Linked DNA regions of Homo sapiens: regions 1, 2 and 4 are each linked to region 3. Evidence: fine-mapped expression QTL. A gene starts in region 3. Each other region holds a variant in brackets. All regions are shown on one strand. Distances are from middle to middle. Region 1 has its middle 20 kb from the start of GALNTL5. Region 2 overlaps GALNT11 (polypeptide N-acetylgalactosaminyltransferase 11). Region 3 holds the start of GALNT11 (polypeptide N-acetylgalactosaminyltransferase 11). Region 4 has its middle 250 kb from the start of ACTR3B.

What was found.
Region 1: its variant is fine-mapped to the expression of GALNT11 in whole blood (TOPMed, PIP above 0.99).
Region 2: its variant is fine-mapped to the expression of GALNT11 in whole blood (TOPMed, PIP above 0.99).
Region 4: its variant is fine-mapped to the expression of GALNT11 in hippocampus (GTEx, PIP above 0.99).

The regions. Positions count from the first base shown.
Region 1 is chr7:151,932,401-151,940,193 of GRCh38, forward strand. No RefSeq gene overlaps it. Among named protein-coding and RNA genes, the nearest start is that of GALNTL5, 20 kb to the right of the region's middle. RefSeq lists enhancers at 904-1,003, 1,024-1,073. The variant C/T (reference allele first, on the strand shown) is at 3,551.
Region 2 is chr7:152,091,198-152,098,990 of GRCh38, forward strand. GALNT11 (polypeptide N-acetylgalactosaminyltransferase 11) reads left to right here. Exons shown (of 12, transcript NM_022087.4): 2 at 2,993-3,325. The coding sequence starts at 3,031. Among named protein-coding and RNA genes, the nearest start is that of GALNT11, 69 kb to the left of the region's middle. The variant C/T (reference allele first, on the strand shown) is at 3,153.
Region 3 is chr7:152,021,760-152,029,552 of GRCh38, forward strand. It overlaps GALNT11 (polypeptide N-acetylgalactosaminyltransferase 11), which reads left to right and starts at 3,915. Exons shown (of 12, transcript NM_022087.4): 1 at 3,915-4,125. RefSeq lists silencers at 2,605-2,899, 3,750-4,449.
Region 4 is chr7:153,005,542-153,013,334 of GRCh38, forward strand. No RefSeq gene overlaps it. Among named protein-coding and RNA genes, the nearest start is that of ACTR3B, 250 kb to the left of the region's middle. The variant G/T (reference allele first, on the strand shown) is at 3,440.

The DNA of each region.
Region 1 (7,793 bases), 89 kb before region 3:
ATTGAAACGTAGTGCTTAATTTCCTGTGAGCTGCACTGGAGAGAGCTCTATCCTTGAAAGGCAAGATTTTCTTGGTTCTTTCAAAGATGACATCAGAGGGGTGGTGCCTGCTGTTTTCTAAGACTCACTTCTGGTTTCTGGTTGATTAGTTCTTTAGGAGAAGGCTCCCAACCCTCAATAGGAAGCCCAGTCTCCAAAGGTGGCCAGAACACGGTCCCCTCTCTGTGGGCATTAGCCTGGATAAAAGCCAGCTCTGAGGTCATATTTATTATATGATTGTGTAATAAAAGCTCTTTACTGGTGAATTGGCCGCTGGCAGCATTTTCCTGAGAATTCGAGGGAATCAAGTGTACAGAATAACAAGAAAAACAGCGCCTTAGGAAGCGTCCCAAAGGAATGGAGGGAGCACCCGCCATAGGTGCCAGGGACACCCGTGGGTCGCGCCTGTTTGCCTGCACTCTCAACTCCCTTCCTCTAGCTGCTGGGTGTTACTTACTCTGCCAACAATTTGTTACATTGTGTTTTTTAAAACACTGTTCAGGCCGGGTGCGGTGGCTCACGCCTGTAATCCCAGCACTTTGGGAGGCAGAGACGGGCGGATCACAAGGTCAAGAGATCGAGACCATCCTGGCTAACATGGTGAAACCCCGTCTCTACTAAAAATATAAAAATTAGCCGGGCGTGGTGGCGGGCGCCTGTAATCCCAGCTACTCGGGAGGCTGAGGCAGGAGAATGGCGTGAACCCGGGAGGCGGAGGTTCCACTGAGCCAAGATCGCGCCACTGCACTCCAGCCTGGCGACAGAGCGAGACTCCGTCTCAAACAAAACAAAACAAGAAAACACAACACGGTTCAGATTGTCACTGCGCCCTGTGATGTGTCCTCTTTGCCGTAAGGAGTTGTTGTGTAGGTTTGGGAACAAGGGGTAGGGGCATCGCCTCTCCTGCCAGAGGGCGGTAGGACTGTCCGATGACACCTGGTTTCCATAGCACTCCCGACAAGCCCTAGGAGGCTGTTCTCCTTACACATAATTATTCTAGATCTCCCTCTTGTGGACCATCTATGAAATAAAAGACACCAGTCTTTTTTTTTTTTTTTAACAGAGGCTTGCTCTGTTGCCCAGGCTGGAGTGCAGTGGTGTGATCTCGGCTCACTGCAGCCTCCGCTTCCTGGGTTCAAGTGATTCTCCGGCCTCAGCCTCCTGAGTAGCTGGGATTACAGGCGCCCACTACCACACCCAGCTGATTTTTGTATTTTTAGTAGAGACAGGGTTTCACCATGTTGGTCAGGCTGGTCTCAAACTCCTGACTCCACCTGCCTCGGCCTCCCAAAGTGCTGGGATTACAGGTGTGAACCACGGCCCCCCCGCCCCCCCGCCAAAACCAATCATATTTAATAGATACAATGAAGAATGTTATAGGTTATAAGGAATTAATTTCTGTGAGTACTATTTCAACATGTAAGACCATTAGTTTTTTTGTTATGAAATATTACAGACTTTTTAAATGTATATAGAGAATAATATAAAAATACCCATGCACCCACAAACCAGCTTTATCAGATCTTAACATTTTGCCCCACATTTACTTCAGATCCTTTAAAAAGGTAAAATAGATACAGTTGAGGGTCCCTAAATATATCCTCTCCCTAAAGTAATCATGGTTCTGAATTTATCTGTATTACTCCCATACATATGTTTATACTTCTCTACATGTATGTGTGCCAATACAATGCACACTGCTGTTTTATATGTTTGAAATTTTATAAGAAGTTACTGTCACACTGCATGTATTATTCTGCAATCTGTTTTTCTCCCACAATATTATACTTTTGAAGTTTTTCCTTGTGTTTCTGTTTCATTCATTTTCCTCTTCTGTATGCTATTGGTTGTATAAATATCACAACATATTTACCAGTTCTCTTATTCTGGGACATTTAGGTTATTTCCATTTTTCCTCATAACAAACAATGCTGTGGTGAACACACTTGGCCTTGCCTCCTTGTCTGTATATGGGAACTTTTCTAGAATATCCTAAAAGGGGAGTGCTGGCTCATTATACTGGGCTTCTTCAGCTTTACTGCTCATAGAGGATGGTACTACGTTACCTTCCGACCGTCAGCAGAGCTCTTTCCTTTCCTGTCATCTGTCCTCCCAGTGGGCAGCCAGGTGGAAGGAGCAGTAGCCACCATTAATCGAGCCTTCACCATGTGCCAAGCACCAGGTTACACGAATTGCCTGAATTTTCTTGTTTTAAAATGACAACAATCTTATGGGGGCAGCATTAGCAAGCCTGGTTTACAGGAAATCAGAGAAGTCCCGGACGCTGCCCAAGGCCACACAGATAATGAACTGCAGAGCGGAAGTGAAACTGATGCAGCCTCACCTGTCTGATCCCGAGCTGCTATTTGACCACTGGGCTATAAAGATGGTGAAAGACTTACCTGTAGAATTCTGGGATGGCGGAGGACACATCTTCCTAGTGAAGTCTCTAAGCCAGTTTGGTGAGAGCTGAGAACGAAGATCAGAAGAAAGAGGCTGGGTGCGGTGGCTCATGCCTGTAATCCCGGCACTTTGGGAGGCTGAGGCAGGCAGATCACCTGAGGTCAGGAGTTCGAGACCAGCCTGGCCAACATGGCAAAACTCTGTCTCTACTAAAAATACAAAAATTAGCTGGGCATGGTGGCACATGCCTGTAATCCCGCGACTTGGGATGCTGAGGCATGAGAATCACTTGAACCCAGGATGCAGAGGTTGCAGTGAGCGAAGATCGCACCACAGCACTCCAGCCTGGGCAACAGAGTAAAACTCCATCTCAAAATAAATAAGTAGATAAAAATAGTTCGAAGAAAGAAGGAATAAGCCATTTAAATGTTTTAATTATGAAAGTCATTATTATACGTTCAAAAGAGTATATTTAATGTTAATGTATAAATAAGGAACAATAATAAAATGAACAGATGGCAAGAAAGGAGTGAGAGAAATGGAAATTAAAGGTATCTAGATACCTAAGAAAAATAGACTTCAGTGTGAGAAAATAGCAGTGGAGGATCTGACAGCATGCATCCGTTTTCCTTGCAATTACTCAGGCTCAGCGAGTGTTTTTCGACAGTGCAGGAGTCTAAAGCTGCTTTGCCGTGTGCTCAGAACAGCTGACCTAAATCTGGCAGGACAGAGGAGTGGGGACCATCACATCAATGAGAAAAGGTGGAGTGTGCACCTGCCTGGAGACAAAGCAGAAATGGAAATAAGGGCCAGGTGGAAGACAAGAAGAGGGAAAAGGAAGTGTATTCTCCAGCTGGTCTCTCTGCTCAGCCCTGCAGGAGCTGGGAATTCCTCCTGAGCTCCCTGGGGAGCTGTCTGTTTTGCCCTGGTTTGACCAGAGCCTGACCTGAGCACTTTGCTTTTATTTCTCCCTGTTGTGTGTGTGTGTGTGTGTGTGTGTGTGTGTGTGTGTGTGTGTGTGTTTGTTTGTTTTTGAGATGGAGTCTCGCTCTGTCGCCCAGGCTGGAGTTCAGTGACATGATCTCGGCTCACTGCAACTTCTGCTTCC[C/T]GGGTTCAAGCAATTCTCGTGCCTCAGCCTCCCAAGTAGCTGGATTACAGGCATGTGCCACCACGTCCAGCTAATTTTTGTATTTTTAGTAGAGATGGGGTTTTGCCATGTTGACCAGGCTGGTCTCGAACTCCTGACCTCAAGTGATCCACCCGCCTCAGCCTCCCAAAATGCTGGGATTACAGGCATGAGCTACCGGCCCCAGCCTCTCTCCTTTTATTTTTAAGGAACTAAGTAATGCAAAACTCAACGGGCCTAGTATGCCATCTGGTAGTGAACGTCTAGTTGAATTAAAGATGAAAAGTGCTAGGGTGTTTGTATTGTTTCGACTAAGACACAGAGGTATAAGTTGTATTTTAGAGTTGTTCATGTTTACTTTACTTGAAAACGAAATGACTTCCAAAATAGAGGAGTCAAAACAAACCAGAAGTGAAAGTTAGCAAGTATTACAGGAAGTGGAAAGGAAACGAATGTGTTGCTATGGAAGTGAAACTGCTTTTTAAACAGCGCATCAAGAGCAGAGTGGGTAAAGCAGGTAGTTTTCTTGGCATGAGTAAAGGATATAGGTCATCTTATGTGCTTTTATACAATAAAAGTATAACTGATACCTTGATCTTAACTTTGTTAAACTGTGAAAAGAGAAAGAACTTGGTGATGTTAAGATACCTCGATACCTTTAGCTTCATCAAAAATGGGTCACGTGCCTTAACCTTGACTTACTCATTTTTCCTACCTTCACGCCTATCATTTCCCCACTTAGAATGCCTTTATGCTACTCAGATTTCCCATCAGAATTTCAACCATCCTATTAAGGACTTTGAAAACCTGACTTAATTGTTTTTTGTTTTTTGGGGTTTTTTTTGAGACAGTCTCACTCTGTCACCCAGGCTGGAGGGCAGTGGTGTGATCTCAGCTCACTGCAACTTCTGCTTCCCAGGTTCAAGTGATTCTCCTGCCTCAGCCTCCTAAGTAACTGGAACTACAGACATGTGCCACCAAGCTCAGCTTATTTTTGTATTTTTAGTAGAGACGGGGTTTCGCCATGTTGGCTAGGCTGGTCTCGAACTCCTGACCTCAAGTGGTCCGCCCGCCTCAGCCTCGCAAAGTGCTGGGATTATAGGCATGAGCCACTGCGCCTGGCCCTGATTTAAATTTTTTATGGAAGTATAAAAATCCATGAAATGCTAAGTCAAACTTGCTCAACTAGGAATTAAGATACAACACAAAACCAAGGACAGACACACAGACCAGGGGAACAGGAGAGGGAGCCCAGAGAGAGACTATATTACATGGGAATCATTACATGATAAAGACAGCCCAGGAATCAGTGGGGAAAGGACGAGTTACTTGTGGATATTTAGAAGTCATTTCAGTGTCTGCAGGGGTAAAAAACCAACATCACATACATAGGACTATTCAAAATGAAGCCAATACCGAATATGAACAGTAAAATGATAAGTTAACAGAATATGGTGATGACACACTTCCTTGCGATCCAAGGGTGGGGAAGGACCTCTTAAAATTTCAAAACACAAGCTGTAAGCAAAAAAAAAAAGGAAGATGATTTTTAGTACATCAGAATGAAAAATTTCTGGTCAACTAGTGGCCCACTGACAAAGTTAATTCAGGCTTTTATTCAACATGCTTGGCTTTATGGCACTTCCCAGATGTTGCATTTCTTACAAATAGAAGGTTTGTGGCAGCCCTGCTTTGAGCAAGTCTGTTGGTGTCATTTTTCCAACAGCACATGCTCAGTTTATGTCTCTGTGTCATATTTTGGTAATTCTTGCAGTATCTAAAACTTTTTCATTATTATATCATTGTGATGATCTGTGATCAGTGGTCTTTGATGTTACTACTGTAGTTGTTTTGGGGGTCCCATATAAGACAGTGAACTTAATTGATAAATGTTGTATGTGTTCTAATTGGTCCACCAGCTGGCCATTCCTCTGTCTGTCTCCCTCATCTTGTGCATCCCTGTTCCCTGGGGATTGAAATTAGGACAATTAATAACCCTGCAATGGCCTCTAAGTGTTCAAGTGAAAAGGAGAGTCACAGGCCTCTGACTTTAAATCAAAAGGTAGAAGTAATTAAGCTAAGTGAGGAAGGCATGTCGAAAGCTGAGATAGGCCCCAAGCTAGGCATCTTGTGCCAAACAGTTAACCAAATTGTGAGTGCAAAGAAAATGTTCTTGGCCAGGCACGGTGGCTCACGCCTGTAATCCCAGCATTTTGGGAGGCTGAGGCGGGCGGCTTACTTGAGGTCAGGAGTTCAAGACCAGCCTGGCCAACATGATGAAACCCCATCTCTACTAAAAATACAAAAATTAGCCGGGCGTGGTGGTGTGCATGGTGTGCACCTGTAATCCCAGCTACTTGGGAGGCTGAGGCAGAAGAATCACTTGAACCTGGCAGGTGGAGGCCGCAGTGAACTAAGATCATGCCACTGCACTACAGCCTGGGTAACAGAGCAAGACTCCATCTCAAAAAAAAAGTACTTAAAGGAAATTAAAACTGCTACTCCAGGGAACACACAAATGATAAGAAAGTGAGACTGCCTTATTGCTGATACAGAGAAAGTTTGAGTGGTCTGGATAGAAGATCAAAGCAGCCACAGCATTCTCTTAGGCCAAAGCCGAATCCAGAGAAAGGTCCTAACTCTCTTCCACTCTGAAGGCTGAGAGAGGTGAGGAAGCTGCAGAAGGAAGTTTGAAGCTTTTGAACCTCATTGGTTCATGAGATTTAAAGAGCGAAGCCAGCTCCATAAAAAAGTGTAAGATGAAGCAACAAGTGTTGATGGAGAAGCTGCAACAAGTTTTCCAGAAGATCTAGTTAATTAAGATCATTGATGAAGACAGGAGCACTAAACAACAAATTTTCAATGTAGACTAAACAGTCTTCTATTGGAAGAAGATGCCATCTAAGACTTTTCATAGCTAGAGAGAAGACATCAATGTCTGGCTTCAAAGCTTCAAAGGATAGGCTGACTCTCTTGCTAGGGGCTGATGCAGCTGGTGTCTTTAAGCTGAAGCCAGTGCTCACTTGCCATTCTGAAAATCTTAGCGTCCTTAAGAATTATGCTGAATCTATTCTGCCTGTGCTCTAGAAATGGAACAACAAAGCCTGAATGACTACACAACTGCTTACAGCATGGTTTACTGAATATTTTAAGCCCGCCGTTGAGACCTACTGCTCAGAAGAAAAGATTCCTTTCAAAATATTACTGCTCATTGACAATGCACTTGGTCACCTATAAGCTCTGAGGGAGATGTGCTAGGAGATAAATGTCGTGTCCCTGCCTGCTAACACGATCACCATTCTCTGCCCATGGATCAAGGACTAATTTCTACTTTCAAGTCTTATTATTTAAGAAATAGATTTAATAAGGCTATAACTGCCATAGATAGTGATTCCTCTGATGGATCTGGGCAAGGAAAATTGAAAACGTCTGGAAAGGATTCACCATTCTAAATGCCATTAGAAACATTCGTGATTCATGGGAGGAGATCAAAATAATAACATTAAGAGGAGTTTGGAAGAAGTTGATTCCAGTCTTCATGGATGACCTTGAGGGGTTGAAGACTTTAGTGGAGGAAGTCACTGCAGATGTGGTGGAAATGCAAGAGAAATAGAAGATGGGACTGAACTGCAATTTCATGATCAAACTTGAAAGGATGAGGAGTTGCTTCTTTTGGATGAGCAAAGAACGTGGTTTCTTGACATGGAAACTACTCTTGATGAAGAAGCTATGAACACTGTTAAAACGACAACAAAGCATTTAGAATATTACATAAGCTTAGCTGACAAAGCAGTGGCAAGGTCTGAAAGGACTGACTCCAATTTTCAAAGAAGTTCTACTCTGGGTAAAATTCTATCAAACAGCATCACATGCTACAGAAAAATCTTTTTGTGAAAGGAAGAGTCAGGGGAAGGGCAGGGGTAGAAAAAAATTAAAAAAGAAGAGTCGATGGATACAGCAAACTTCATTACTGTCTTATTTTAAGAAATTCCACAGCCACCCCAACCTTCAGGAACCACCACCCTGATCAGTCAGCAGCCACCAACATCGAGGCAAAACCCTCCACCAAAGGAAGATTACAACTCCATGAAGGCTCAGATAATTGTTACCATTGTTTAGCAATAAAGTATTTTTAATTAATACAGTACATTTTATACATAATGCTATTGCACACTAAATGGACTACAGTATAGAAACATAACTTTTATATGCACTGGGAAACCAC
Region 2 (7,793 bases), 69 kb after region 3:
CCACCACACCTGGCTAATTTATATATATATTTATTTTATTATTATTATTATTTTTGTGTGTGAGTCGGAGTCTCGCATTGTCACCCCGGCTAGATTGCAATGGCGCGATCTCGGCTCACTGCAACCTCCCCCTCCCGGGTTCAAGCGATTCTCCTGCCTCAGCCTCCCGAGTAGCTGGAATTACAGGTGTGCGCCGCCACGTCCCGCTAATTTTTTGTATTTTTAGTAGAGACAGGGTTTCACCATGTTGGCCGGGCTGGTCTCAAACTCCTGACTTTGTGATCCGCCCACCTCGGCTTCCCAAAGTACTGGGATTACAGGCGTGAGCCACCGCGCCCGGCCCTAATTTTTTGTATTTTTAGTAGAGACGGGGTTTCACCATGTTGCCCAGGCTGGTCTCCAACTCCCAACCTCAGGTGATCTGCCCACTTTAGCCTTCCAAAGTCCTAGAATTAGAGGTGTGAGCCACCGCCCCCAGCCGGAGAGGAAAGTTTCAACTTAGACATGAAGAGGTCATCACATCAGTCCTGGATGATGATGAAATTGAGGGTGGGGCAAAGTTCCTTATGTGGAATTTAGGTAAAGGTGACAGCAGGAACACTAACCAAGACATTTGGAGGCAGGGTTGGGCATGGTCCAACATGATAGTGGGAATCAGGCTAAAGAAAACACGAGAAACGACATCAGTGTCCATCTTTCATAGCTGCTAATGGAGTAGCTCTTGGTTTCTTCAGGGTCTGTTTTGGATGGTTCCCTTTTGTGAGGGCCAAGCAGCCCATGGTGGAAGCGGGAAGGCCGGGAGTGGTTTGAGGAAAACAACCTGTAAGCGTGGACCTTGCTATATGGATGAAGAAGGGGTTGGCTCCCTAGGTGCCTGGTTCCTCGTGGATTCAGAGCAGCCTGTCCGGTTACACTCTTTAACTTCAGGATCTCATGGCCTGTGGAAGAAGCAGTGCTTTTGTTTTTGTTGTTTGTTTACTTGCTCTTTGTCTACCCTAAGCGAACATTTTAGGGAGTTATAATGTCTGTTTCCCCTAAATGTCACTGCTCTGTACATTTTTGTTGCAATATTTTTGTTACAAAGTTGCACATTGCAATTTTTTTTTGTCTTTTCATTTGCTCTCATGGGCTTCCTTACTTAGAGAACATTTTCTTCTACTTCAAGTATTTGTGTTTTTCTGTTTATGTCTTTAGTTTTAAAAGTACCTGCAGCTGACATAGCAGCGCTTTCACTGGCGCCTGATTTTCCTTTGTACTATTGTCATTTCCAGCCATGCCTCTGGTATTACTGTTGGTGGGAGTTTTTGTTTGGTTGGGTTTTTGTTTTGTTTTGGTATGTTACTGTTGTTTTGTTTTTTTACTTTTTAATTAACTTGTAGTAGAATACTTAATAGTTCTTGGTTGGCAGACAGTTAAGAAACTGAACTGTTTACCATCTTCTAGGCTTATGGCATAACCTTGTACAAGAGAACCTAATTTTTACAGTGGTGCTTTACTGATGCCAGTTTGCTTTGTCCTGATCTTTTGGGGACAATACCATTTTTAAGATTATTTTATGCTGTAGAAATAAGTAACTTAAAAGCAGTATCTCTGTGCAGTTTTCTTATGTATCTACATTGCTTATATGGTTTCTCTGCCATAAGTCTGTTTACTGAGATGATTTTATATGTGCATTGGGCTCCTTAGAATTCCTTAGGAAATTGTATTAGCCTCCATGAAGATCAGATATCAGAAAGCTTAGGAGAAATTGCCAGGCACGGTGGCCTCACGCCTGTAATCCCAGCACTTTGGGAGGCCAAGGCGGGCAGATCACCTGAGGTCAGGAGTTTGAGAGCAGCCTGGCCAACATGGTGAAACCCCATCTCTACTAAAAATACAAAAACTAGCCAGGTATGGTGGCACGCACCTGTAATCCCAGCTACTTGGGAGGCTGAGGCAGGAGAATCACTTGAACTCGGGAGGCAGAGGTTGCAGTGAGCCAAGATCCCACCACTTTACTCCAGCCTGGGTGACAGAGTGAGACTCTGTCTTAAAAAGGAAAAAAAAAAAAAAAGCTTAGGAAAAATTGCTGTTCAGTGCTACATTTAGTTCTTCTTGCCTTGTTTTATAGGTGAGGGAATATAATTACTTGAACTCTTTATTTGAAAATAACTTAGATTTAGAGTGCACACTAGGGCAGGCATAACCTTTGATTGGAAAGTAGAATTTTTTTTAAGTTGTTTATATTTATTTATTTTTATTGTTTTGAGACAGAGTCTTGCTCGGTTGCCCAGGCCAGAGTACAGTGGTGCAATCTTGGCTCACCACAACCTCCGCCTCCCGGGTTCAAGAGGTTCTGCAGCCTCAGCCTCCCAAGTAGCTGGGATTATTATAGGCGCCCACCACAACCCTCAGCTAATTTTTGTATTTTTGATAGACACAAGGTTTCACCAGGTTGGCCAGGCTGGTCTCGAACTTCTGACCTCAAATGATCCGCCCACCTCAGCCTCCCAAAGTGCTGGGATTACAATCATGAGCCACCACACCTGGCCAGAGTTGCTTAGAGTTGCTTATTTTTAATAATAGATTTTTAAGATCCTTGGATTAAAAAAAGAATCTTGCAGTTCTTTGGTTGGAAGAGACTTTAGTTGTCCTGTTATGATACATGTGGTACTTGTTATTTTCCTTGTGAAAATTATAACCTGATGAGAAAAATTACGCAACTGAAAGCAGTCCAGAACAAAGGTGAAGAAGTATCCATTAACATGGGCAAATGAATCAGTCAGCTATTTCACTGCCGTTGGTTCTCTGAGCATTAACCCACAGGCCTGAGGTTTTCATTGTTGAACCCTTTTTAAAAACTCAGTACTATCCATACATCTTCTTGTATTTGAATATCCGTTAACTGTACGCATAGTGGTCCTACTTGGTGGTTTGGAAAACAGTGATTCTGTATTTGGTGGATGGTTTAAAGTATACTGAAGTGTCTAACATATTTATTCTTCTTTTTTAGGAAATTGACAATGGCCCTTCAGCTATGCTAGGTCTATAATGGGAAGTGTCACAGTTCGGTATTTCTGTTATGGGTGCCTTTTTACATCTGCGACCTGGACAGTTTTGCTTTTTGTTTATTTCAACTTCAGTGAAGTGACTCAGCCACTTAAGAATGTGCC[C/T]GTCAAGGGGTCTGGGCCCCACGGACCATCTCCAAAAAAATTCTATCCCCGTTTCACTCGAGGCCCAAGTCGAGTGCTCGAGCCACAGTTCAAAGCAAACAAAATTGACGATGTGATAGACAGTCGTGTTGAAGATCCAGAAGAAGGCCACTTGAAATTCTCTTCTGAATTAGGTAAGTATATGATGTTTACCAGCATCCATATCAATGTATTTAATCACTGGAAGTTTGATTAATTAGTTAATTAGGAGATCAGAAATGCTGCATCATTTTTTCCCCACTGATTTATTTTGTTTGTGAACTACCTGAAGTTCTGTGGTTTCTGCAGACTCAGTGGGGAGTTATATTCTAATTTATCCAGTTCTGACTTCAGTATCTTATGAGAAAACAAACAAGGTCCAGGGAAGAAAAATTAAAAGGCTAGAAAGAAAATGGAACCTATGGGAGAAGGGGTTTGTTTTTTGTTTGTTTTTTTAAGAGATGGGGTCTCACCATATTGCCCAGGCTGTCCCCGAATTCTTGGGCTCAAGCTGCCCTCCCACCTCAACCTTGAGAGTAGCTGGGACTATAGGCATGCACCACTGTGCCCAGCCCTGGAAGAAGGTTTTAATTGCTAGAATTGTTAATAAGGGAAAGAAATGGTTGAAAGTTTCCTTGACTGTATTTAACTTATTTTTAAGGGTACATTTAATTAATACAGAACATAAAGTACTGAGTTTAAAAATAAGCTGGGGTTATTTATATCTAATATGATTTTCACTTAACAAGAATTACTAAGGTGCTAGAAAAAATATATGTATATATAATATAGTTTATGAAATCTTAGTTATAAAATAGCCCTTTTTTCCTCCTAAAAAATTATATTCTCTTCAACTTGGATGCAAGACTCTATTGTCTATGCCTTTGAATACTGCAATTTTAGAGTGTTGATTTTGACATTTTATTTTAAGGGATAAGTGAGCAATTTTTGTTATCATTAAAACTTAAAGAACTTGGATCTTGTCACAAAAACATCAAATAATAGGTAATTTAAGAGTAAAATACAAGAGATTTTTGAGAGATTGAGAGAGCCTTAGAATGTGAAAGAAATGTTAAAATAGAGTTTTCACTTGGTCATAGTTTCAAAGAAATAAAATCAGTTCTTAGGACTTAATGATTTTCTAATATAGGAAGTCAAAAGTATGTAAAATTTTATGAGGAAACAAGCTAATATCTACTTCAGTTTTCATTTAAAAATATTTTTAAATAGAGACGTGATCTCACCAACTTCAATTTTCATAAAGTACAATTTTCATAAATCTTTTTCAAATAGCCAGTGGACATTTTTAAAGCATTAATGGGAAAATGTCTAGCTCTTTTATTTATTTATAGTTACATTGGTAAAGCTTTTATCAAGAAGTAATACTGAGTTTACCATTTTGAATAGACTCTGTATTTGCTTTTGAAAGAAGTAGTGAGAGAATTGTAGATATTGAATAACAAACTCCAGCTGCCTAACTGAAAAACTAAATTCCTTATAGACTATCGTAAAGAATCCACAAAAAACCTATTAGAGGTAATAAATGAATTTGGCAGTTGCAGGTACTAGATCAACAGGCAAAAACCAGTTGCATTTTTATACTGTAGCAACAAGTGGCCTGAAAAATGCAGTTAAGAGATCAATTTCATTTACAATAGCATCAAAAGTCATAAAACACTTAAGAATAAATTTAGCCAAGGAGCTGCAAGATTTGTATGCTGAAAACTGTAAAACATTGCTGAAAGAAATCAAAGTAAACCTACACACATTGAAAGATATTCCAGGTTCATAGAATGGAATACTAAATACTGTTAAGATGTAGGTATCACCCAAAGCAATATGTAGATTCAGTGCAATCCCTATCAAAATGTCAGTGGTCTTTGTTGTAAAGAGGGAAAAGGTTATCCTAAAATTAATATGGAATTACAAGAGGCTCTGAATAGCCAAAACAGTCTGAAAAAGAACAAAGTTGTAAGACTCAGACTTTCCAATTTTAAAAATAAATTGGACTACATCAAAAACAAAAACTTTCGTACATCAAATAACATATCAAGAATGTGAAAAAAGGGCTGGACGCAGTGGCTGATGCCTGTAATCTCAGCACTTTGGGAGGCTGAGGTGGGTGGATCACCTGAGGTCAGGAATTTGCAACCAGCCTGACCAACGTGGCGAAACCCTATCTCTACTAAAATACAAAATTAGGTGGGCGTGGTGGCAGGTGCCTGTAATCCCAGCTACTCGGGAGGTTGAGGCAAGAGAATTGCTTGAACCTGGGAGGCGGAGGTTGCAGTGAGTCAAGATCGCGCCATTGTACTGTAGCCTGGGCGACAGAGCAAGACTCTGTCTCAAAAAAAAAAAAAAAAAAGTGAAAAAAGACAACCCACAGAATGGGAGAAAATATTTGTAAATCATATTTCTAATAAGGGTTCAGTATCCAGAATATATAAAGAATGCTTGTTTGTAATTTTATTTCATTTTGAGACAGGGCCTTGCTCTGTCACCTGCGGTGGAGGGCAGTGGCACAGTCATGACTCACTGCAGCCTCAATCTCCTTGGCTCGTTTGATCCTCCTGCCTCAGCCTCTCGAGTAGCTGGGGCTACAGGGGTGTACCACTATGCCCAGCTAATTTTTGTATATTTTGTAGAGACAAGGTTTCACCATGTTGCCCAAGCTGGTCTCAAACTCCTGGGCTCAAGCCATTCGCCTGCCTTTGCCTCCCAAGGTGCTGAGACTATAGGCATGAACCACTGTGCCTGGGCCCAAACAGTTCTTAAAACTCAGTAATAAAAAGACAAATGGCACAATTTTAAAATGGGCAAAGGATTTGATAGACATTTCTCCAAAGAAGATATGCAAATGGCCAACAAGCAGATGAAAAGATGCTTAATATAATTAGTGATTACAGAAATGAAAATCAAAACAATGAGATAGCCATCTCACACCCACTGGGAGGGCTATAATAATAAACTTAAAAAGGAGAGTAGCAAGCGACAGTGAGGATGTGGAGAAACTGGAGCCCTCACATGTTGCTGGTGGGAATGGAAAATAGTGCAGCCACTATAGACAGTTTGGCAGTTCCTCCATAAATTAAACGTAGAATTATCATATAACCCAGCAATACCACTCCAGGGTTTGTACTTGGAAGAATTGTCAACAGGTGCTCGAAAACTTGTACTCAATGTTCATTAGCAGCACTATTCTCAATAGACAGAAGGTGACAACATGTTATCCAAATATCCATCAACTGATGAAGGGATAAACTAAGTGTGGTCTATCCATACCATGGAATATTATTCAGACAGAGAAGGGAATGACGTTGTGATCATGCTACAACATGGATGAACCTTGAAAACATTATGCTTGTGAAAGAAGCCACACACAAAAGGTCACATGTTGTAGGGTTCCTTTATGTGAAATGTCTAGAATAGGCAGGTCCATGGAGACAGAAGGCAAATGAGTGGTTCCCAGGGACTGGGGAATGGGAGGAATGGGAATAACTGCTTTAATGGGTATAGGGTTTTCTTCTGCGGTGCTGACAATATTCTGCAGCTAGATAATCATGCTGGTCATACAACATTGAGAATGTACTAAATGTCACTAATGGTATGTTTTATGTTACGTGCATAATTATCACAGTTAAAAAATGAAAAACATCCACAATTTCTTACATAAAATAAATTTAATATAGAAGGAATTAGTATAAATAATGTAGTAGTTAAAAGTATGCAGATTTCTGAGTAGAGAATTACTGAACAAGCAGGGAAAGGAACCTATGAAAAGGTATATTTGAGAAAGATTATTGGCCAGGCATGGTGGCTCACACCTGTTATCCCAGCACTTTGGGAGGCTGAGGCTGGTAGATCGCTTGGGCTCAGAAGTTTAAGACCAGCTTAAGGTGGTATCTACTGAAAGTTTAAAAATTAGCTGAGTGTGGGGGCGCATGGCTGTAGTCCCAGCTACTTATGAGGATTGTTTGGGCCCAGGAGGCAGAGGCTACAGTGAGCCGAGATTGCACTACTGCACTCCAGCCTGGGGGACAGAGCAAGACCCTGTCTCAAAAAAAATAAATAAATAAATAAATAAATTTAAAATTAAAAACATTTTCTCATTTAATCTGAAATTAATTATAAAATTAATTGAAAAGGGTCCTCTGGCATGTTAATTCATTGAGGTTTGGCTACAATTTTGAGTAGGGGAATAAGAAAAGTAAGCTAAAACAATCTTTTCATATGGAATCTTTTCAAGAGACCTATAATAGAACATGATTCTTTCATGTTCTGATACTTGTTGAATTAAGGAGTATTTATTGAGAATCTTCTTTGTGCAAGGCTCTGCTCTAGGTTCTAGGTATCAAGCAATTTTAGTTTTATTTCTTTTATGTTTTGGTCATCACCAAAGTCTCTTCTCTTGTGGAGTTTCTCTCCTTGTATAAAATGCTAGTGGAGGTTTGTTGTTTTGTGTTTAAAAAGGATGAACTGCATTTGAAACAGTTTCAGAGAGAAGGCATATTAAGAGATAATGTTTCTCAAAGTAGATATGGGGACACTAGTTGCGTTCAGATAAATTGGGGAAACACTGCATTCTATTTTTTTTGAGACAGAGTTTTGCTTTTGTCACCCAGG
Region 3 (7,793 bases):
CTCTACTAAAAATACAAAAAAATTAGCTGGGCATGGTGGCGCACGCCTGTAATCCTAGCTACTCAGGAGGCTGAGGCAGGAGAATTGCTTGAACCTGGGAGGCAGAGGTTGCAGTGAGCTGAGATTGCACCACTGCACTCTAGCCTGGGCGACGGAGTGAGACTCCGTCAGGAAAAAAAAAAAAAAAGCAAAACAGAACCCGGCTCAGTGGCACGTGCCTGTAATCCCAGCTATTTGGGAGGCACAAGAATCGCTTGAACATGGGAGGTGGAGGTTGCAGTGAGCCGAGACCAAGACCAAGATCACACCACTGCACTCCAGCCTGGGTGACAGAGACTGTCTCAAAAAACAAACAAACAAAAAGCAAAATAGAAATCTTGTAGCTGAAAAAATAAAAGAGAATTATAGTAGTATAAATATGGAGTATCTTCTTAAAGTAACAGTTTTTTTCTAGTTGAAATTTGAGAATATATATATGTTATATATAATTATTATATGTAATATATAAATGATATATATGTAACATTAAAAAGTATATTTTTTTTCTGGTAAGCATAAAGAATGGATGCTGTAAATATCAGCTTTCCCAAAAGCAAAAGACAGGAGTGTTCTCTTTTGTTAAAAGCCGTGGGCCTAATATTAAGTCTTAGTTTTGTAATGTAATTTAGTTTAGGTACTAGATAACACAGATAAGTCCTAGAAATTGTTCAGCATGTCCCTTGGACAGTATCTTCTTAAATATTGCTTCAGTTGACCCTAAAATAGAAAAGAAATCAGAATCAATATCCAAATATTTGGTGTGATTAAAGGGAAATTGATACTTGCCTATAGATGGCAATTTTTTGTTTTTGTGTGGAAATTTAAAAATCTGATTTGTATTTTGAAGCTAGTTGAAAAGTATCTGGTAACCTGCTTAGGGTTTCTTACAAAACAGTTTTTGGTATGATGGAATGCTCAAACAAGTCTGAAATTAAGCCCAGGAGTTCTGTAACTAAAACATCCTTCTAGGAATTTATCCCAAGACACACCTGTATGAAACAACAACTAAGAAGAGCTGACATTTGCTGAGCTTTTACTACGTTTCATACTCTGTTATAAGTAGTCTGCATGGATTATCTCCTTTCATTCATACAACAACTTTATGAGTTCTACTGCTATCCTCATTTCATAGATGAGAAAACGATGGTTAGAATGTGCCCAGGTTAACGTTGCCCTATTTGGCTAATAAAAATACAGGATGCCTGGTTAAACTTGAATTTCAAATAGACAATAACATTTTACTGTACATATGGCTACATTCTGAATGTGTCTTCCATAATTCATGTTGAAACAACTGACAAAGCAACAGCACTACAGTTTGAATACCTTTTATCCCCACCAAAATTCATGTTGAGGCTTGGACCCCAGGGTAACAGTGTTGAGACAGAGTAGGACCTTTAAGAGGCATTTGAGCCATGAGGGACCAGCCCCCCATGAAAAGATTAACGCAGTCACTGAGAGTTCCCAGTCTCTTGAGACTGGATTAGGTACCTTGAGAGCGGGTTGTTAATAAGTAACATTGCCCCTTTAGCCAGTGCGCGCTTCCTCTTCCGATTCTCTGCCACGTTATGATGTAGCACAAAGCCCTCACCAGCAGCCTACCAGATACGGCTGCTGGATCTTGTACTTCCCAGCCTCCAGGAGAGTGGGAAAACAAATTTGTTTTTAAACTACCTAGTCTCAGGTATTTTATTATGGCAGCACAGATGAAGACAAGCCTCTCACATATTGCACAGGATATACTTAAACCACAAAATTATTCTTAATCTGGAATTCAAATTTCAGGCCATCCTGTATTTCATCTGGCAACTGTATCCAAGGACAAACAATAACACGGCCCTTACATGATCCTAATCAGCGTGGCCTCAAAGATTGTGTTTAACCAGAATGATACGCTGAAAAGAGCATTTTAGTGTCATTCTGTATGATAGTGAAAAATTGGAGCTAACCCAAATCCTCAATTACGAGAATAATGGTTAAGTAATTATTGCACATTAATCAGGTAGAATAGTATTTAAAGTAATAAACAGATGCATCTCATACTCATCAGGTTGGCAAATATTTAAATATCTGATACTATCAAGGGTCAGGAGAAGATGAAACAATGGAAATTTACATGCCCTGATTAATCCTAGAGCATGATTTCAAATGTTAATTTGTGTATAAATCACCTGGAAATCTTGGTAAAAATGCAGATTTTAATTAAGTAGGTGGAGCACAAGACTCCCCATTTCTAACACACTCCAGGTGACGTTGGTGTCGCTTGTTGCTGGACCACCATTTGAGTAGTGAGGCCCTAAAGGTCTGGTCTTCAAACTCTTTTGCTTGAGTATATACTAAAATAATAAGGTTTAAATACAAGAACTTAGTATCCCCTTATACATATTTAAGGTGATATTTAACATTTTTCATTACTAGTTTAGGTAGTTGGAAGGATTACTTTCTGGAAACATATTTATGTATTTAAATAAACTTGTAATACACTTTTAAATATACCTAGTAGACTTTGCCCTAGTTTGCCTGCCACTGCTGTGAATAGTTTCTGAGGGGGATCCCAGCAGGATTGATCCCCAATGACGCTTATTTGATATTATACTATGTATATTTTACATGAGCTGCAACCATTGAAGGAAACTGGGCAAAGATACCTGTGTGCTGTCTGCACTGCCCTTGCAAGAGAAACCAGTACCTGAAATATCTGTCAATCTCCAATCAAGACACAAGCATGGTAGAAGGAGTCAAAAGCATTCAACTTGGCACCCAGCAGCAGTTCTCTTTGGCTGAGGGAAGTGGCCACAAGACTCAGCTGGGGGCCATCAGCGGCCTACACACCCAACAACTGGAGAAATGAGTCCTCAGTCCTTAAGGGGAAACCTGGGTGGTACAACATGGCATCCCCTACACCCTGACAACCCCATGGGGTATCTGTGGAAGAGGGGCTGGGGAATGTGGTTAGCTCAGTTCAGCTCAAGAAGGCCACTACTTTGGTTCAGGTGGTGCTCTTTAATTTATAGTAGCTGTAGAAGTTCCTCCATTGCTACGCGTGTACCCCATCAGACTTTAATTGTGAAGCAATGAGTTCTTTAAAAAAGTTCAAAAATATTCTTAACCAAGTGGGATTTATTTCAGAAATGCAAAGAAGATTAGTATTAAGATATTCTTCAATATAACTTGGCATTATTGGCCAAAGATGAATGCCCACACCATTTTTCTTAAAAATTGCCAATTCCCCTTTTATGGTATTTGTATACATTGCACTATTATCACCAAGGTATGAGTGTTTTTTTCACCACTTCTCTCTTTACACCTTAATCTACATTTTCTTCTATCACAAGTGGCGTTTAACTTCTTTTAATATGTTTAAGGGCATTTGTCTTTTTTTTTTTTTTTCACTTATGGGGTCTCGCTGTATTGCCCAGGCTGGAGGGCAGTGGCTATTCACAGGCGCGATCCCGCTACCGATCAGCACAGGAGTTTTGCCCTGCCCGGTTTCCGAGCTGGGCCAGTTCCCCACTCCTTGGGGAACCTGGTGGTCCCTGCTCCCGGGAGGTCACCACACCGATGCGGAACACAGATGCGTGTCGCCGCGCAATGGGCACAGCGCATACAGCGCAGAGCTCCCGGGCTCAAGCGCTGCTCCCGCCTCAGCCTCCGGAGTAGCCGGGGCCACAGGCAGGGCATTTGTCATTAATGGGGTCTTTTGAGACCGCGGGTGACAGACAACAGGAGCCAGGCCACGCGCGGCGCCTCTGCGCGAACGCTAGGGAGGACTCAGCGCGCGGCGGCCGGTGACGTCAGGGCAGCGAGAGGTTTCGTCACCGCGGCGCGGGGGCGGGGCCGCCTGTCACGCGGCGCCGGCGGACGCGCGGCGCTGGGCGGAGGCAGCGGCTCGGGGACTGGGCGAGGGCCCTGGGCCTGAGGAGGCGCGGCCGCCACTGCGCCCAGCGCCTGCGCGACGCCTGGCTGCTGGGCCCCGGGGCAGTTCAGCCCGCGCCGCTCCTGCGGGTCGGACTGGGGCTGTGGCGGGAGAGAAGATGCCGCAGCCCGAGTCCCAGAAGGCGGCGATCCTGGGCTGCGGGCAAGGCGGTGAGTACCCTCTAGGCGGCGGCCTCCCGGCGTCCCTCAGCACCTCGAGAGCTGCGGCGGCGGCGGCGCGCGGGGCCTGGGCAGGCTGGGGGCGGCGGCGGGGCAGCGCCTGGCTCCCCGCGGGTCCTGGGCTCCCGCACGCCCCCTGGGCGAGGCTCGTGTCTCCGGGAGACGCCGCTGCCCCCGCGCCTCCCCCAGCGTCTCCTGAGGCTTGTTCGCGGGCGTGGGGGCGAGGACCAGGGCGCTGGCCTCGTTTTCGCGTATTTAGGACGGAGGCACACCTGATCCTGCAGCCTCCCCCAGCATTTCCTAAAATGAAGTCCAGATCAGTATTGTCCACTTTTTAAAATTAAAAGTGCCCAGAAATAGAATAGTTCACACATACACAAAACTAGGGAGAATAGTGTGGAAGGAAATTTAATCTCGGGACCCCAAATCACTAAGCCAAAGTCAAGCTGGGAGCTGCGTCAGGCAAACCTGCCCCTAAGTTTTGTTCCTAAGACAGCTGCAAAGATAAAAAGCCACACAGCTCCCTCACCCTTTGGCCAGGAGGAAATTCGCTGTGGACCTCCACATCTTTACCCTGAAACAGTTGTGTGGAATTGCACCCTGGCAGTGTAAATTGACAGCTTGTCTTCGCAGGTGAGGAACAGGGACAGAACTCAAGTCATCCTTCTGCTCACCTGAGACAGATGCATGTCTGACGGCTTCCTCTGCCCTGTATTTATGTAAAAATGCAGATTCACTGAGCCAGACTAAGGCACAAGTGGCTATTCCTCTGCCTGCCCCATGGCGTAAATTGTGTGTTCAGTAAAAGGCAGAGCAGAGGCTCAAAAGAATGTAGCCGTTTGTCTCTCATCTTACCCATGACCTGGAAGCCGCCACTTTGAGTTGTCCCACCTTTCCTGCCCGAACTAGTCTATACCTGTATTTGATTGAAGACTCATGTTCCCCTACAATGTATAAAACTAGGCTGTGCCCCCACCACCTTGGGTACATGCTCTCAGGATCTCTTGAGGGCAGTGTCATGGGCCATAGACACTCATTTCGCTCAGAATAAATCTCTTTAAAAATTTTTTTATTAGCCGGGTGCGGTGGCTCACGCCTGTAATCCCAGCACTTTGGAAGGCCAAGGCGAGCGGATCACGAGGTCAGGAGATCAAGACCATCCTGGCTAACACGGTGAAATCCCGTCTCTACTAAAAATACAAAAAATAAGCCGGGCGTGGTGGCAGGCGCCTGTAATCCCAGCTACTTGGGAGGCTGAGGCAGGAGAATGGCGTGAATCGAGGAGGCAGAGCTTGCAGTGAGCCGAGATCACGCCACTGCACTCCATCCTGGGTGACAGAGCGAGACTCCATCTCAAAAAAATTTATTTTTAATTTTTGTGGGTACATAGTAGGCATATGTATTTATAGGTACATGAGATATTTGATATGGCATAGAATGCATAATCACATCAGGATAAGCAGGGTATCCATCTTCTCAAGCATTTATCCTTTGTTAGTGCTACAAACAACCTGCAAGGCTCTTGTATTGGTTTGAACCCCGATGACGCACCAACAACCCCCACGACATGAGGCGGTGTGGAGCAACATGCTGTTTTAATAAGCGCCTGGGTGCAGACGGGTTTATGCCTAAATGGCATCAGCCCCAAGTGAGGAATGGGTTTTATAATAGCATCAGCCCCAAGTGAGGAAGGGGTTTTATAGTCCTCTGTAAGCAGGAAGTGTCCCAGTCTGACGTGGCTGCTGCGTAAATGTGTCCGGAATTGGTTCCTTCCAGTGGATTCTTGGTCTCGCTGACTTCAAGAATGAAGCCACGGACTGTCGCGGTGAGTGTTACAGTTCTTAAAGATGGTATGTCGAGAGTTTGTTCCTTCTGATGTTCAGATGTGTCCAGAGTTTCTTCCTTCTGGTGGGTTCGTGGTCTTGCTGACTTCAGGGATGAAGCCGCAGACCTTTGCAGTGAGTGTTACAGCTCTTAAAGGTGGCACGTCTGGAGTTGTTTTTTCCTCCCAGTGGGTTCATGAGCTCACTGACTTCAGGAGTCAACCTGCAGACCTTCGCAGTGAGTGTTACAGGTCTTAAAGGTGGCATGTCGAGAGTTGTTTGTTCCTCGCAGTAGGTTTGTGGTCTCACTGACTTCAGGAGTGAAGCCACAGACCTTCACAGTCAGTGTTACAGCTCATAAAGTTAGTGCAGACCCAAAGAGTGAGCAGCAGCAAGATTTATTGCAAAGAATGAAAGAGCAAAGCTTCCACAGCATGGAAGGGGACCCGAGCAGGTTGCCGCTGCTGGCTCCAGTGGCCTGCTTTTATTCCCTTATTTGGCCCCACCCACATCCTGCTGATTGGTCCATTTTACAGAGAGCTGATTAGTCCATTTTAGAGTGCTGATTGCTCTGTTTTACAGAGTGCTGATTGGTCTGTTTTACAGAGTGCTAATTGGTCGGTTTTTACAGAGTGCTGATTGGTGCGTTTACAAACCTTTAGCTAGACACAGAGCGCTGATTGGTGCATTTACAATCCTTTAGCTAGACAGAAAAGTTCTCCAAGTCTGCTACCCAGTTAGCTAGTCACAGAGCACTGATTGGTGCATTTACAATCCTTTAGCTAGACTGAAAAGTTCTCCAAGTCCCCTACCCGATTAGCTAGACACAGAGCACTGATTGGTGTGTTTACAAACCTTTAGCTAGACACAGAGCCCTGATTGGTGCATTTACAATCCTTTAGACAGAGTAGTTCTCCAAGTCCCCACCCGACCCAGAAGCACAGCCAGCTTCACCTCTCAATCCCCCCCCTCTAAACAGGACACCCCAACTGCTGTTGGGAATTTGGCCAATGACTGCTGTAGCTACTTCCTGCTGGATAGGGGTGAAGAAGGGGCCCTGCAATTGTAGTGTCCTCCAGAGGGGAACTCTTTAGGCCAGTGAAAGGGCCAGCAGGTTGGTCCAGGGGTCCTGGTAGAAGTTTAGTTGAGCTCATTTGGAGTTCCATTTGTAAGACCATCTGTAGCTTGATGGTCTCAATTCTAGAGGAAACAAATTTGAAAAGGAGGTTAAAAATACAGGGCCCGAAGGCAAGTAATAGCAAGATGGCTGCCACAGGACCTAGAAAGGGGAGAAGCCATGTTGTCCAACTCCAGAGGTTGGTGTAAGAGTTTGAAAGGCGTCTGATTTCAGAAGCCTTTTCCTATAAATGTTGGGTGGCATCTCATACTATCCCTGACTGGTTAGTGTAAAAACAACACTCTTCCCCTAAGAAGGTGCAGAGTCCTCCTTTCTCAGCAGTGAGGAGGTCTAGGCCTCGGTGGTTTTGGAGAGTCATTGCTGCCAAAGAGTCTATTTGGAATTGTAGTTACTATCCTTACTGGATAGATTTTGTTATTTCTTGCAAACTCTCTTGAGAAATCCTTTGAGAGTGTGGTAGTAGGATAATGAAGTAGGTAAACTGGCTATTCCAGTTCCTGTAGCAGTGGCCATTTCTAACCCTATAGGTAGGGGTATTAGTTGTATGGCTCTGCACTGACGGACTTGAGCTTTGAGGGGTACTGATAGGGTCTGATTTCCACAAGATTAGAAGTTAGAATAATATATGTTTACACTGTTAACTTTTAGCAAACTTTACTTTTGTTGAAAACCTTGTAAGTTTGGGATTTCAATTATTC
Region 4 (7,793 bases), 980 kb after region 3:
ACTCAGAAGAGTGCAACCGTTTGTCCCTTATCTATCTGTGATGTGAAAGTTCCCAGGCTTCGTGTTGTCCCGCCTTTCTGGACCTAACTAGTGTACAGCTTACACATATTGATTGATGTCTCTTTTCTTCCTAAAATGTTTAAAATCAAGCTGTGCCCTGCCCACCCTGGGCACATGTTGTCAGGACCTCTTGAGGCCGTGTGACGGGTACATCCTTAACTTTGGCAAAACAAACTTCTTGAGCTGATTGAAACCTGTCTCAGCTACTTTTCCGTTCACTCCTTCCTGCTGTGGGTCTACACAAGTGGTACTTTGGGTGTCCTCACAAAATACAACACTTTGTGTCTCTAAAACAGCGGTGCGCTTTTTCATCACTTACCTGTGTCTCTGCCATGTGGCTTCTAAGGAAGTGTTTTCAGTTGAAGGAACAGCTTTACTCCCGAGGAAGAGGGGGTGGATGACTGTGGACCATGTGCCTGTCTCCCTAGCAGTTCTTACCAGTCCCTCGGACCCGGTTGTAGATACAATTCACAGGACCCCAAGGAAAGAAATACAAGCAATAAGAATTTATTGAAAGACTTTTTAAGGCTCTAATGGAAGACAAACATTATTCAAAGATTTACTATTCTGGCCCTCAGCCAAAGGGCTGAAACTGAAAAGAAGGAATTTCAGGCATTTGCAGTAGGAATTTGGGGGCCAGAGTATCTTTCCTCGAAATCACCCCATTGCCTCTAACATCACCCCAAGGCGAGAGTCACAGCTTCAGTGCCGCATAGGAACAAAATAGTAATTACAACATGCCTTTCATTTGACTGGCTACCTCAGATTCATGTCCTACAAGCTGGGCTGGGCTGGTTATAACCAACGTTGCTGAGGTAGCTACTGCACAAATACCTGCCTTTCCCTCAGTGTCTGGAGCTTGGCCATCTAATATCTTTCTACAAGGCAATGAGTCTGGGGGCTTGAGGGAGCATACCCCAGAGCAAAACTTTCATGTCAGAGGGGACCAGGGTCCCAGAGACCCCCAGACTGTGCAGGTGCCCTCACAGAGACAGCTGGGGCCAATCTGGGCACTTAGCACAGGGCTTCCACTCCACAGGAAGACTACCCAAAGCTCAGGTGCCAGGGTGTAAATGTCTCCTGTTCTAGAGGCAGAACTCATTCCCTCACTTCTCATTGTCCCATGGGCCCAGCTAGAGGCAGCAGGGATTGCCCAGGACAGTCCTTAACCTTGCACTGTGGGTTTCCACCCATTTCAACAGACGCATTTCTGTTCAGCCAACTTTTATTGTGTGATGGTTGCGGAGGACATTTCATCCTTCCCAGAGACATATTTACAACGAGCAAACATTCTCTGGGAACTCAGGGTCTTCACCAATCTTCTAAGGCTCAGGGATCATGGGTGGGTCTGGCCCTATCTAGTTGTAGGGATCTGGGCCTACGATGTTCCACAAAGCTCCCCACCGTCATTTTGGTGTTTCCCCAGGACTGCCACAGGTCCTATTATAAGACAGTCGTGGGGAGAACATCACCAGGAGTGGTGGGGGAGCCAGCGGGAGCCACCCTCGATATCCCACCCATGGTGGCTTTTCCTCCTGTCCTTTGGTGAGTGTTGGCTGGTGTGATTCCCGGCACATGCTTGTGAGCCCTGAGGGACCCTGGCTCTACCACCCATCCTAACACCGAGGCCTGGCATGGATCCCCTTCACTTGCAGCATCCACGGCTCAGATGACTATTGAATATAGTCAGGTCCTAGATACTGACAAAGGGAGAGGAAGGTGCAAAACAACCCAAGATGAGAGTGGGGTGCTAGTGCTGTCGGGTGGAGGCGGAGGTGCCACTCATTTCAGGATCACAGGGGCCGCTTCCCTGCCCATTCATCCGTGTATTCATTCATTCACTCATTCAGCAAACGCTTGCTGTTTGAGGAACTGCTGTGTGCTAGGCATTGTGTAGAAGAGAAAATACAGGCCCAGAGAAATTGTGACTTGGATAAAGTAACTGAGCTGGGCTTGGCGACTTCGCTGTTGAGCTGGGTGTGCTCTGCTTGTCTCTCCAGATCCATTCTCCCTGCCTCCATTCTTACACACCGCTCTGCACCGTGTAAGGCTGGGCTCCGGACACATTCAGGCTCCTTTGTCCAGTGGCTTCGCGTTGTATTCCACCAACGAGAGGCACCGACAGGAGGTGGAAAGCAGGGAGGAGAGGCCAGGCTATGTACCGCCCTGGGACGTCTTTGCTGGGTTGCAGTATGGCAATGTTTGCCCTTCTCCACCTGATGTTTTGGGCTCCACCTTTTCTAACAGTTACAGCTCTCACTAGGTTCGGATAACCAAGCCCTCCCCTTCCATCTCAGGCTAAGGAATGCCCATGGCTTCCTAAAGATGTGGGCTCCAGGTTCACTCATCTTCCTTTGTTGATTTCCCTTAACCTGGCCAGCAACTTTGGGGGTACCCCTCCCATAAACCTTCTTCATTTGCTTTTATTCAAGCATGCTGTTTCCGTCAGCATCCTGACCGGTGCCATAATTGGTACTCAAAGTCCCCGCAGCAAGTAGAATCTCAAAACAGGACCCCGGGATTGTGCAGAGCAGGTTTGCTAATCACTAATCCCAAGGGAGGACTCCCAGACAGGGTAGAAAGCGAAGATCATCACCCTGCCAGTTTCCAGGAGTAGGAGTCCAATCGCTTCTGCCCATGCCATCTTGGGCTACAGATTTACCAACTGCCCAAGTCTGTGAAACAAAACACGCTCACACGAAACCAGCTATGTGAGGTGGGTATTCCTTAGAAATTGGCAGCCAGGGACAGAAGATGTCTCAGATCCATTGTGAGCCTGTCCCCCAAGGTTCAAGAAGGCTATCCCGGGGCTGATGGAGTCTCAACTGCGTGTGCCCCACTTAGACCACGGCCGAGGGACCCTGAAGAACAGCCCACCTGGGTAATGTAGTGCAGGGCTGGGCAAAGCTTTGAAGGACATCCTGCTCCCAGGGGAGGCAGGCACGGAGCCGGGGCTGTCCCGGGCAGCCTCTCCCTAACTCAAGATCTGATATTCTTTAGGAGGAACAGGACAAGGCCTGGCTGCTTCAGGCAGTTCCTCCCTGTCTCAGGATGTTACATCCCCAGCACATCTTACAGTTATTCTGAGAGCTACATGCTGGGAAAAAGGAGAGAAATGGGTCGGTTCGAGGCTACTTGGAGAACCATCCTGAGGGCCCCTGGGACTGTGTGCTCACATCTTGGATGAATGCACAGATGATTTTCCTCGTGGAGAGAAAATGGCTTTAAATAGAAGGTGAGACCTCAGCTGATCCCATGAGAAGGGTGACTTCAACTGGGGTGCTGTGTCCCAGGGCTTCCTAAGCCTGGGATTCTCAACGAGGAATCTGGGAAACAGGACGGAAAGCAACGGAGGAATAGAAAAAGATCTTGTTTCATT[G/T]ATTCTCAATGAGCCAAGTTTAGCAGTTCCACGAGGGCACCTGGTCAGAAAAGGAGAGCTCTGGTTCCATTTCTTCTAATAATTTACTCTGTGACCTTGGGAAATGTCCTCCATTCTAGTGCTCTGCATGATACATGAGTCTATGTGAATGCCAGTTATTTTTATTTTTATATTCCTCTCTCTCCTCTCTTTACTACTGCCTTACTTAGAAAGTAGCTTTTTCTCAATATTCCCAAAAACATATTTCAAAAGTTTTTTTTTTATGACTTATTGGAAATAATGCTATTAGAGAATGAGAAAGTACTGGAAATGCCGCTGGCTGGCTCCATGCAGATGCGTGGACTGGGCACTCTGGTGGTGACGGTTATACAGTCTGAGAAGCCAGCAGGGCTCTGAGCTCTATCCCCAGCCAAGTGACTTGCTGGCATTAGGAGACAGCTTTGCCAGCCCAGAGAGAAATGCAGCGGGGAAGAGGCTGTGTCCTGGTTGACTGCATGAAGTCTTTTTTTTAATTTGAGATAGGATCTCACTTTGTTGCCCAGGCTGGAGTGCAGTGGCATGATCATGGCTCACTGTAGCCTCAACCTCTGGGCTCAAGTGATCCTCCTGTTTCAGCCTCCTGAGTAGCTGGGACTACAGGTGCATGCCACCACGCCTGGCTAATTTTTGTTTTTGTTTTGTTTTGGTTTTGGTAGGTGGGGTTTCTACAAAAAAAAAAATGTTCACAATGTTGCCCAGGCTTGTCTCAAACAACTGGACTCAAGCTATCTGCCCACCTCGGCCTCCCAAAGTGTTGGGATTATAGGTGTGAGCCACTGCACCTAGCCTCATTAAGATTTTAATATGCGTAAGTTTATCTTTTTAAAAAACCCATACTGAGTATATAGGAAAAGAGACAACATATAAATAAGCTTTTTCACAATCAAATTAAATATTACTTAAATAAGCTGAGCTTTCCTAACTAAATGCTGCCACAGGTATGATTTTAAAATATTTTTCTTTTTCAGAATAGTTTTTTTTTTTTTTTTAAGAGACAGAGTCCTGCTATGTTGCTCAGGCTGGTCTTGAACTCCTGGATTCAATCAGTCCTCCCGCCTCAGCCTCCCCAAGTGCTTGGACTACAGCTGTAAACTCCTGTGCCCGGCTTGCACAGTCTTGATAACCTTCTGTGGCTGGCAGGTATCCAGTGCTTCCCAGAAGACCACTTGTGGGTCCGCAGGAAGAGGGGGTTTATTTCTGAAGGTCCAGTCTTAGCTTGTCCATAAAATCAGCCTCTTCACACTCATCACCCCAGGCTGCACTCTTCCCTCTTTAGTCATTATGGGGAGATGGTGATATGTGCCCTCCCCTGACTAGAGGCAGGGCTTCAGCTAAGCCTTGACCTGGGGTGCAGCAGATCGCCTGTGCAGGGGGTCTCCTCAGCCAATGATGACTTACTCCCTGGAAACTGCCCCAGTACACAGGAGACGCTCATGGTTTCTGAGCCTTCTTGTCCTCCCCATGCACTGACTTGTGGTCACTGACTGATTTGGGGACAGCATTGTTTCCATCTCAGGCCAATCACAGTTGTCCTCCTGGGAACGGGAATGGTGAGCGGTGGCCACGCAGACTGGAGCTGGGACCCTGGTGATTGTGCAGAGCGATGGGAGCTTGGCCAGGACTGTCTAGTTTCCGTCTTCCTGTGGTTTGGCTGTTCAGCCCTTCCCTCAAATTTGGGAGTTACTCAGTCCCTCGGAAATGCGTCCAGCTCGAGTTTGTGAGAGTCACTTTCTATTTCTTCCATTTTATTACTGGGGTGGTGGAGAGGAAGGCAGCATGCTTCTGATTGGCCTGCGAGACACCCCCTAGCGGGTCCTCATTCCCACCAGGGCCTGGTTCCCAGCGCCTCTTCATGCACATGCCGAACAGTGATAGAAGCTCTTGCACAACCCTCTGCCTTCGCTGCATTGAAACTGCCTTCACATCCTTCTGTTTCCTCTTGCCTGATCTCACCTCAGTGTCATGGTGCAGCTCAGCCTCCTCCTCTGTGAAGCCTTCTTTGTCCTCCTTCTTGGGTGCTCTCTTTCCAGTGCTATGGGATCAGTCAGGCCCAGCAGTGTGACATTCAATTGATCACCCAGAGTTTCTGGTGTGTTTCTGCTCCCTGGAGGCATGGACTCATTCTGACACTTCCTTTCTATCCCTCAGTGCTGAACGCAGAGTCACACACCTTTAGGTGCTCAATGGCACTTTACTCAGCAGAGATGGGAAGGAGCAAACATCTTGAGGAACAAGAAGACCCCAGTTCCTCATCAGGATAAAGACTGTATTTTCAGAGGAAGTCAGGCCAGAATGTGGCAGGCATCGAGTGTCAGGATGAGGAACTCGTCCCAGGTGTGAGTCCTCAAAATGCAAACACAGCCACTAATTGTAAGGAGCCTCCAAAGAGACAGTGATAGTTGATGGAAGGAAGCAGCATGGAGGAAAGGACAGTGGCATAGGAAGAGTGACCTATTCCATTGGGGTGGAAGGGTGCTGATCAGATTTAGTCAACAGTCATCGAGTTCCTCCCTTGTCCTAGAGACTGGTCTGAGTGTTTTCACACTACCTGGTTTAATTTACGCAAAACCCTGTGAGGTGCATAGTCCAGGCTCGGAGATAAGAGGATTGAAGCTCAGGATGCTGAGTGACTTGTCCATGGTCAGATGGTGATTAAGGGGCAGAGCTTGGGCAGGAAGCCAGGTGTGCCCCAGGTGTTCTGACTCCAGAGCATCTTCCCTCTGTAGCCTTTGGCTTTCCTTTTACGTGAGTCACTGCGGTCATCCTCTCAGCTGTGAGCTTCACCACTAGAGACTAGTTGCCAAAACTGTGCTGGACATGTATGTTTATTGCAGCACTATTTACGATAGCAAAGACTTCGAATCAACCCCAAATGCCCATCAATGATAGACTGGATAAAGGAAATGTGGCACATATACACCATGGAATACTATGCAGCCATAAAAAAGGATGAGTTCATGTCCTTTGCAGGGACATGGATGAAGCTGGAAACCATCATTCTCAGCAAACTAACACAGGAACAGAAAACCAAACACTGCATGTTCTCACTCGTAAGTGGGAGTTGAACAATGAGAAGACATGGACACAGGGAGGGGAACATCACACACTGGGGTCTGTTGCGGGGTGGGGGGCAAGGGGAGAGAGAGCATTAGGACAAATACCTAATGCATCCCGGGCTTAAAACCTAGATGAGAAGTTGATAGGTGCAGCAAACCACCATGGCACATGTGGTATACCTATGTAACAAACCTGCACATTCTGCACATGTATCCCAGAACTTAAAGTAAACAAACAAAACTGTGCTGGACACACCATCCTTTGGCACAATGTGGCCTAAAGGGACCTGCCTAGTCAGGTTTGTGCTGTGCCCTCTGCAGCTGGGCAGAATTAATTCCTCCACATCTCTTCAGGTTTCAGTTCTCACAGCCCTGTGCACCTGTTTTAATCGCTTGTACCGGAACTGTAATCTTCTACTTATTTGTATGATTATTGGGTGATGGTGGTCTCCCCGCTGCCCTGACACACACACACACACACACACACGTGCCCATGCACAATTGTGAGCTCCATTAGAACAGACAGCTGTGTGCTGCTGTTACCATCTCCATCTGTTTTCATTAGTTATGACCATTCCTGGCACATGGCAGGTACACAATTATTTGTAGGTGAGCAGAAGTGTGAATGAACAAGTGCTTGAATAGAAAATAAAGGAATGGATTGTGGATGTGACACATTTGGCCCAAACATTCAAATCCCTCATTATGGGTCTGAATAAATGCTGCGAGGAAGCTAGAGATTGCTCCAGGACTTCCCACCTCTTCTGTTCTGCCCTGGCCTCTGAAAACTCCCTGCCTCCGTCCTCTCCTCTCAGAATCTGCCTTCGGACCATGTTTTCCATCAGGAAGCTCATCACATGCCCCATGCTAAGAGGGAGATGACCGCCAGTGGCCTCTGTGCCACCCTCCTGTGGGGCTCTGTGGTGAACAGAAAGCGGCTCCCTAACTGGGGAATGATGTTGTAAAGGCGATAGGTTGGGAGATGCATTCCTCCTATCATGCCAGTTACACCAAGACTGAGGTCTGCAACTTTTACAAATGTGCAGATCCACGAAGCCCACAGCCCTATTACCTCCCCTTGGTGCTGTCCTCGCAATAGTGAGTGAGTTCTTGTGAGATCTGCTTGTTTAAAAGTGCATGGCCCCTTCCTCTCCCTCTCTTGCTCCTGCTCCGGCCCTGTGAAGTGCCTCCTCCTGCGTCACCTTCTGCCGTGAGTAAAAGCTTCCCGAGGCCTTCCCAGAAGCAGACACTGCTATGCT